Linked DNA regions of Homo sapiens. The protein of the gene in region 2 interacts with the protein of the main gene of each other region in a pairwise test. Each region holds a gene or a part of one and is shown on either strand. Other genes may lie near its edges.

Evidence for each region.
Region 1: the proteins of DISC1 (region 2) and DNAJC7 interact in binary tests that used the Homo sapiens proteins (3 or more experiments, as listed by UniProt).

The regions. Positions count from the first base shown.
Region 1 is NC_000017.11:41,982,743-41,986,491, reverse strand, and holds part of DNAJC7 (dnaJ homolog subfamily C member 7), read left to right. Parts: intron 1-584; exon of another isoform or gene 585-2,855; coding exon 2,856-2,929; intron 2,930-3,749. UniProt on the Homo sapiens protein: Acts as a co-chaperone regulating the molecular chaperones HSP70 and HSP90 in folding of steroid receptors, such as the glucocorticoid receptor and the progesterone receptor.
Region 2 is NC_000001.11:231,629,790-231,633,538, forward strand, and holds part of DISC1 (disrupted in schizophrenia 1 protein), read left to right. Parts: intron 1-3,749. UniProt on the Homo sapiens protein: Involved in the regulation of multiple aspects of embryonic and adult neurogenesis. Required for neural progenitor proliferation in the ventrical/subventrical zone during embryonic brain development and in the adult dentate gyrus of the hippocampus.

The DNA of each region.
Region 1 (3,749 bases), on a different chromosome or scaffold from region 2:
GTGGCTAGATACTTGATACTGTATGAACTTAATGGAATGCTCTGTATATGGAATGCCAGGGGATGGGAAGAGAAGAGAAAAATCGCTTTGTTTTATTTTTTGGGATGGAGTCTCGCTATGTCGCTCGGGATGGAGTCTCGCTATGTCGCTCAGGCTGGAGTGCAGTAGCACCGTACTGGCTCACTGCAACCTCCACCTCCTGAGTTCAAGCGAATTTCCTGCTTCAGCCTCCGAAGTAGCTGAGATTACCGGCGCATGTCACCACACCCAGCAAATTTTTGTATTTTTATTGGAGATGGGGTTTCATCATGTTGGCCAGGCTGTTCTCAAACTCCTGATGACAAGTGATCTGCCTGTCTTGGCCTCCCAAAGTTCTGGAATTACCAGCAGGTGTGAGCCACCGCGCCCGGCCTTTTTTTTTTTTTTTTTTTTTTTTTTTTTTTTAAGCAAGCCCCCAACACCATAGAAAATTCTTGATTTGCTCGGAGGATAATTGGATGAAGGATTATTTTCTTCTTTGTTTATGTGCAAGAAATGAAAATAAGGAATTGCTTTGATCAGACAACTTCTTATCTTTGTGGTAGAAACAGAACTGCCCTTCTTGGAGTGGCTCTGCCTCTGAGATCACTACAGGGGAGACAGCATGCCCTGTTCAGCTGGCTGAATATTTGGCAACAATCTCCTGAAGCAGCTGGAATTGACAAGAAGTACTGGAGATTAGCTCGGGCCAAACCCTTACATCTGGCCTGACTACTGCTGCAGTCTGCCTCAACTTACCCCTAAAGCTGGGGAGATGCCACCCACCCACATCTTTGCTACACATGCCATCATGAGCTAGAGTTCACCCTTTCTCCTTAAAGCCCTATTTACTTTTCTACTTCAACTTTAAAACAAAATTAAAATGTGAGGATATCCCTGAATTTTAAAAAGCATGAAGTAAAAATGCAAATTAGTATAGTTTGTTTAATACATTACATATAGACCTAAAGAAAGTTCATCAGGGTTAATCATTTGTCACATCATTCTATACCCAGGGCTATCAGCTATCAATTTTCCTTTTTTTTTTTTTTTTAATTCAGGATCCAGCTCTGTCACCCAGGCTGGAGTGCAGTATCAAAGTATCATTTCTCTTACTTCAAATTATTACATTTTATTCTGTACATTGATTCTGAACTCCTAATATAATATTTATGTCCTGTATTTGCAGGCCATTGGTTTTTTTAAAGTCATAAATCAAAATGATGCCAGAAAATCAAAGATGCCCAAGATGTTGGGCTTCTCTTTTGCCAGCCACATTGGTAGCACTCTCCTGCCCTGGCCTCCAAGCTGGTGGGGATCTGTGATGTTTGTGAAAATGGGCTTATGCCAGGCGCAGTGGCTCACGCCTATAATCCCAGCACTTTGGGAGGCCGAGGCGGGCAGATCGGTTCAGGTCAGGAGATCGAGACCAGCCTGGCCAACATGGTGAAACCCCATCTCTACTAAAAATACAAAAAATTAGCCAGGTGTGGTGGCACATGCCTGTAATCCCAGCTACTCAGGAGGCTGAGGCAGGAGAATCACTTGAAACCTGGGAGGCGGAGGTTGCAGTGAGCAGAGATCGTGCCATTACACTCCAGCCTGGGCTACAGAGTGAGACTCTGTGTCAAAAAAAAAAAAGAAAGAAAATGGGCTTGTGTGGTAGCAGGTAAGAAATTGAATCTCTGTTGTACAGCAGCTAGCTGTACTGCATGATCACTTCCCATTCCCCAGCTGACAGTGGCTGTCTCTGGAACTCCTACCACAGTCTTCAATTGGTAGGCCAGCCCTGGTGCCAGTGATTTTATCTGGGCATGGAAAATGCCACTTGCTTCTGTGGAAGAGACACTTAAAAGATCTGGCAGTCGGCCGGGTGCGGTGGCTCACGCCTATAATCCCAACACTCTGGGAGGTCAAGGCAGGCGGATCACGAGGTCAGGAGATGGAGACCATCCTGGCTAACACGGTGAAACCCTGTCTCTACTAAAAAAAAAAATAAAAAATTAGCTGGGCGAGGTGGCGGGCGCCTGTAGTCCCAGCTACTCTGGAGGCTGAGGCAGGAGAATGGCGTGAACCCAGGAGGCGGAGCTTGCAGTGATCCGAGATCACACCACTGCACTGCAGTCTGGGCAACAGAGCGAGACTCCATCTCAAAAAAAAAAAAAAAAAAAAAAGATCTCGCAATCATCCTGTCAAGCTTGATTCCTCCGATCTTGGGCCAAGGGCCCCTCCTTTCTTTTGTGCTACTGAAATAGAAGCAAACCTGTGTTTAGAGTTCCCTTTTCTGTCTCATTTACCTGCATCTCTCATTGATTGGTCTTAGTGGAGGGATTTGCCAGCAGCTGCCACGTTGAACTTGATCCTTTTAGTGGCTCACTAATCCCACCTCTATTCTGGATTGTAGCTAGTCCTGCATGTTTATGGCACTATAGGTTTCAAAGCTCTTTCATACCCATTTATTCACTTGATAATTTTTCTCTTGTGTGTTTCAACCCAAAGTAATCAAGTAGATCCCTTCACATTGTCTTTTCTAAGGCAGTCCAGTACCTCTTAGGTGGCTGTGTGTCAGAAGGAACTTTTTCCTCTTGATTACTTTCTGCTCAAAGCTGAACATCACTTTGCTGGTTGGATGCAAGTGCCATGCGACCTCTCTTTTTATTTCCTTGAGGACTTGTTAGCTAATTTTCTCTCACTGCTAGATTAAGGGCTCCTGTTTCTGAAGCATCTTACCAGAAGTGTGTGTCTCTTGCTTGAGCCATGCCTCTTGCCCTAGAGTGATCCTGAGAACCACTGCTATTTATGTCTTAGTGCTGTATTGCCTTGTATTTCCTTCTCAGTTACATGGACACAGAACAGTATGAAGAAGCAGTACGAGACTATGAAAAAGTATACCAGACAGAGAAAACAAAAGGTAAGTTTAAAAGCATTTGTTTTTTAGGGAACTGTGTGGACTTCGTAGGCCATAAATCTGTACACAAGGTAGTTTGATTCAGGGATCAGGGATCTACCTAGAACTTATTTGATCACCAGCCAGAAAGAAGTGAACAAAGGCTGGGCGTGGTGGCTCACGCCTGTAATCCCCAGCACTTTGGGAGGCTGAGGCAGGCAGATCACCTGAGATCAGGAGTTGGAGACCAGACTGGCCAACATGGTGAAACCCCATCTCTACTGAAAATACAAAAAATTGTGGGTATGGTGGTATACGCCTGTAATCCCAGCCACTCAGGAGGCTGGGGCACGAGAATTCCTTGAACCCAGGAGGCGGAGGTTGCAGTGAGCTAAGATTGCGCGACTATACTCCAGCCTGGGTGACGGAGCGAGACTTCATCTCAAAAACAAAAACAAAAAAAAGAAAAAAAAAGTGAACAGATATCTTGGGTTGGGGCATGAGGCACCTATTTTCTGGTTCCAGATCCTCCCTGTCGTTTTCATTTCATTTTTTGTGTGGTGAGGCTAAAGTGAGGAACCTAAGTCTGGGTAGATTTTCTTTTTTCTTTTTCTTTTTTTTTTTTTTAAGATGGAGTCCTGCTCTGTCACCCAGGCTGGAGTGCAATGGCATGATCATAGCTCACTACAACCTTTGCCTCCCAGGTTCAAACAATTATCCTGCCTCAGCCTCCCGAATAACTGGGATTACAGGCACATGGTACCACGCCTGGCTAATTTTTTGTATTTTTAGTAGGGATGGGGTTTCACCATGTTGGACAGGCTAGTCCCGAACTCCTGACCTC
Region 2 (3,749 bases):
CTTTTTCTTTTTTTAAAATCTAAAAATTTTGATTGGAGAAGGATTAGAGACTAAATTGTTGATATTTGAATTTTATTGTGGTTTTGGTTAAAGTTTGATGCAGGACCTTCAGAGCAAAGAGAGGGTACAATGGTGACCTTTAAACAATATATATATTTTTTGAGACGGAGTCTCGTTCTGTCGCCAGGCTGGAGTGCAGTGGCACGATCTCGGCTCACTGCAACCTCTGCCTCCTGGGTTCAAGCGATTCTCCTGCCTCAGCCTCTCGAGTAGTGGGATTACAGGCGCCCACCACCACATCCAGCTAATTTTTGTATTTTTAATACAGACAGGGTTTCACCATGTTGATCAGCATGGTCTCGATCTCCTGACCTTGTAATCTGCCCGCCTCAGCCTCCCAAAGTGCTGGGATTACAGGCATGAGCCACTGCGCCGGGCCCTTTAAACAAGATTTAAAGACCAGCACACAAAGTTTCTGAGTACAAAAAAAGGTAATATTTTAGGTTAGGGTCATTAGACCAGAATTAGAATCATTCTTTTTTTTTCTTTTTTTAATTAAAAAAGATGGGGTCTCCTTATTTTGGCCAGATTGACCTTGAGCCTCAAGCAACTTCTGCCTCGACCTCCCAAAGTACCAGGATTACAGATGTGAACCATTGCACCTGGCCAGAATCATTCTTTTGATAATAATGATGGTAATTGAGTTTATATGCTGTGTTCTCATGAATCCAAGCAGAGCCCACTGTTTCCAGAGATTCCCTTGGCAGCCACCCTGGGTTGAGGAGGGTCCCCTCCTGGCACAGCTGGAACCACCGGTGAAGAGCCATTTTTCAGTCAGCACCGTTTAGTAATATAAGACTTTTAGCCTCGAGGAGTCTTCCGTTGTTAGTTCCTAACTTTAATGACTTTGTGGTAAAAATTCCTTAGCGAATGACTTCTGTGCAACAATCATGTAATTTTTAAAATTCCAGATGCTTTAGCCGTTCAGAATCCATTTTTTCTTTCAAAACCAGAGTTCACCAGCTGTTTCTCTTGAGCGAAGACTTTGCAATGAGCTTTCAAATGTTCACACCAAGTAGAAGCAGGAAGGGAGAACTGTGGCTGGGCAATGAATGAAATACTGACATTTAGCTGTAGAAGGTAGGCAGGGGCTCACATGGTGTGCACAGCCCCTTATATGACTACTGGTCCTGTATCTGCTTCCTTTCCCTGCCCCATTTCCCCTTTGGCTTTTTGTCATGACTCAGAAATGGATGCTAGACATTATGGGGCTCCCTCCAGTCACTCGGGTCACTCGTCACAGACTTATAAACAGAATCACAGAACTTATTGTCAGATGAAGCTTCAAAACACCAGTTGGCTAAACTCCTTGTGTTCTGGCAGGTAAGATGTCGGCATCCTTATTTAACAAATGATGCTACTGAGAACTATGTATGCAGAGACATAGTCTCAAAATAAGTGCAGTCATGCCTCGCATAATGACGTTTTGTCAATGTCACATATGTGAGAGTGGTCCCATAAGATTATACTGGGCTGTCAATTTCCTAATGCCTAGTATTTACTATACATTTTAATGTTATTTTGTGTACTTCTACTTAGTAAAAAAAAGTTAACTGTAAACCCGCCTCAGGCAGGTCCTTCAGGAGGTATCAGAAGAAGGCATTGTTGTCATAGGAGATGATGGCTCCATGCGTGTTTTTGCCTTGAAGGCCTTCCAACGGGACAAGGTGTGGAGGTGGAAGGCAGGGATAGTGATGATCCTGACCCTGGGTAGGCCCAGGCTAGTGTGTGTGTTTGTGTCTTAGTTTTTAACAAAAAGTTTGAAAAGTAAAAAAATAAAAATTAAAAATAGGAGCTTATAGGATAATAAGGATATAAAGAAAAAATATTTTTGTACAGCTGCACAATGTATTTGTGTTTTAAGCTGTGTTTTTATAAAAAAGTCAAAAAATTAAAAAAATTTAAAAATTATTATATATAAAGTAAAAAAAGTTATGGTACGCTAAAGATAATTTATTGTTGAGAAAAAAATTTAAATGAATTTAGTATAGCCTAAGTGTACAGCGTTTATAAATACAGTAGCATGAAATTATGTCCTCAACCCTCACGTGCACTCACCACTCACTCACTGACTCACCCAGAGCAACTTCCAGTCCTGCAAGCTCCATGCATGATAAGCCTCCTATAGAGGTGTACCATTTTTCATCTTTTATAGTGTATTTTTACTGTACCTTGTCTATGTTTAGATATGTTTAGATGGAAAAGTACTTACCATTGTGTTACGGCTGCCTACAGTATTCAGTACAGTAACATGCTGCACAGGTTTGTAGCCTAGGAACAGTAGCTATACAATATAGCTTAGGTGTGTCATAGCCTATACCATCTAGGTTTTTGTGAGTACACTCTATGGTGTTTGCATGACAAAATGACCTAATGACACATTTCTCAGAAAGTGTCCCTGTCAATAAGTGATGCATGACTGTGATTGAAATAAGTAGCCCCACATTATTTTTCTCATGTCAACTTCAGGTTAATTTTCCAGCCACGTGGCCTTGTGCTTGCTCATCATAAAAAAATGTGGATAAAATTCTACCTGTTAAGCCACAACATTTGCCTGTCATGGGTGGACATTTACCGTTTATTTTCAGAGTTCAAAGTTTGAACTCTCAGAGAAATGCAAATAAGACAGTAAACTCCTCGAGGTGAGGAATGGCAATCTCTGAAGATAAATCATATATTTATTGTACAGTATTGAATGTTGTAAGTGGCAGTAGAGATCATGTAATCTGGCCTTCTTCTTTTACAGGTGAGAAAAGTGAGAAACAGCAGCAGAGTGATTGTTAGAACCTGGCTCCTCTTCTTTTACTTAGAACTGTTTTCATTAAGTTGTGTTTCATTTCATAGTTCTGTATAATTCATCCCTGCTTAAGATACATTAAATGAATTGAACTGAATCCCTTTTTTTTGAGCTATGATGGCTCTTAAAAACTTAGATTTTCAGCCAGGCGCAGTGGCTCATGCCTGTAATTCCAGCAGTTTGGGAGGCCAAGGTGGGCAGATGACCTGAGGTCAGGAGTTCGAGACCATCCTGGCCAACATGGCAGAAACCCATCTCTACTTAAAATACAAAAATCAGCTGAGCATGGTGGCGTGTGCCTGTAATCCCAGCTACTTGGGAGGCTGAGGCTGGAGAATCGCTTGAACCTGGGAGGCAGAGGTTGCAGTGAGCCAAGATCATGTCACTGCACTCCAGCCTGGGCTACAGAGAGAGACTCCGTCAAAAAAACAAACAAACAAAAAACCACGTAGATTTTCAAGTAATTACTATTGTTACACTAAATGTCAATGGATCCTTAAGAATCTATTTGTTCATGAATTCATTATTTATTCATTCAACGTTTATTGAGTGGCTACTTGGTTCAGAATTAGAATTAGCATGACAGCCACACATTAGAAAGGTATCACTTTTTGACTAAATTAAAAACTTGCTAAAAATAGTTATCCATTGATGGAATAGGCTACCCCGAAAGGCAGAGAGCATTTTGTCATTGGAAGTATGTAGGGCAGTGTGGATGACTCTAGGGTGACTGTCATGAGGGTTCTGCACTGGGGAGGGGGCTGCGTTGGATGATGAATGGGAACCCTTCCAGTGCTAAGATGCTGTGATCGTTGTCCTGCAGGATTGGGATTGTGCAGGATTTGAGCTACTGTGTAAATTTCCTATTCCCTGCTCATTGGGCTTCCACATT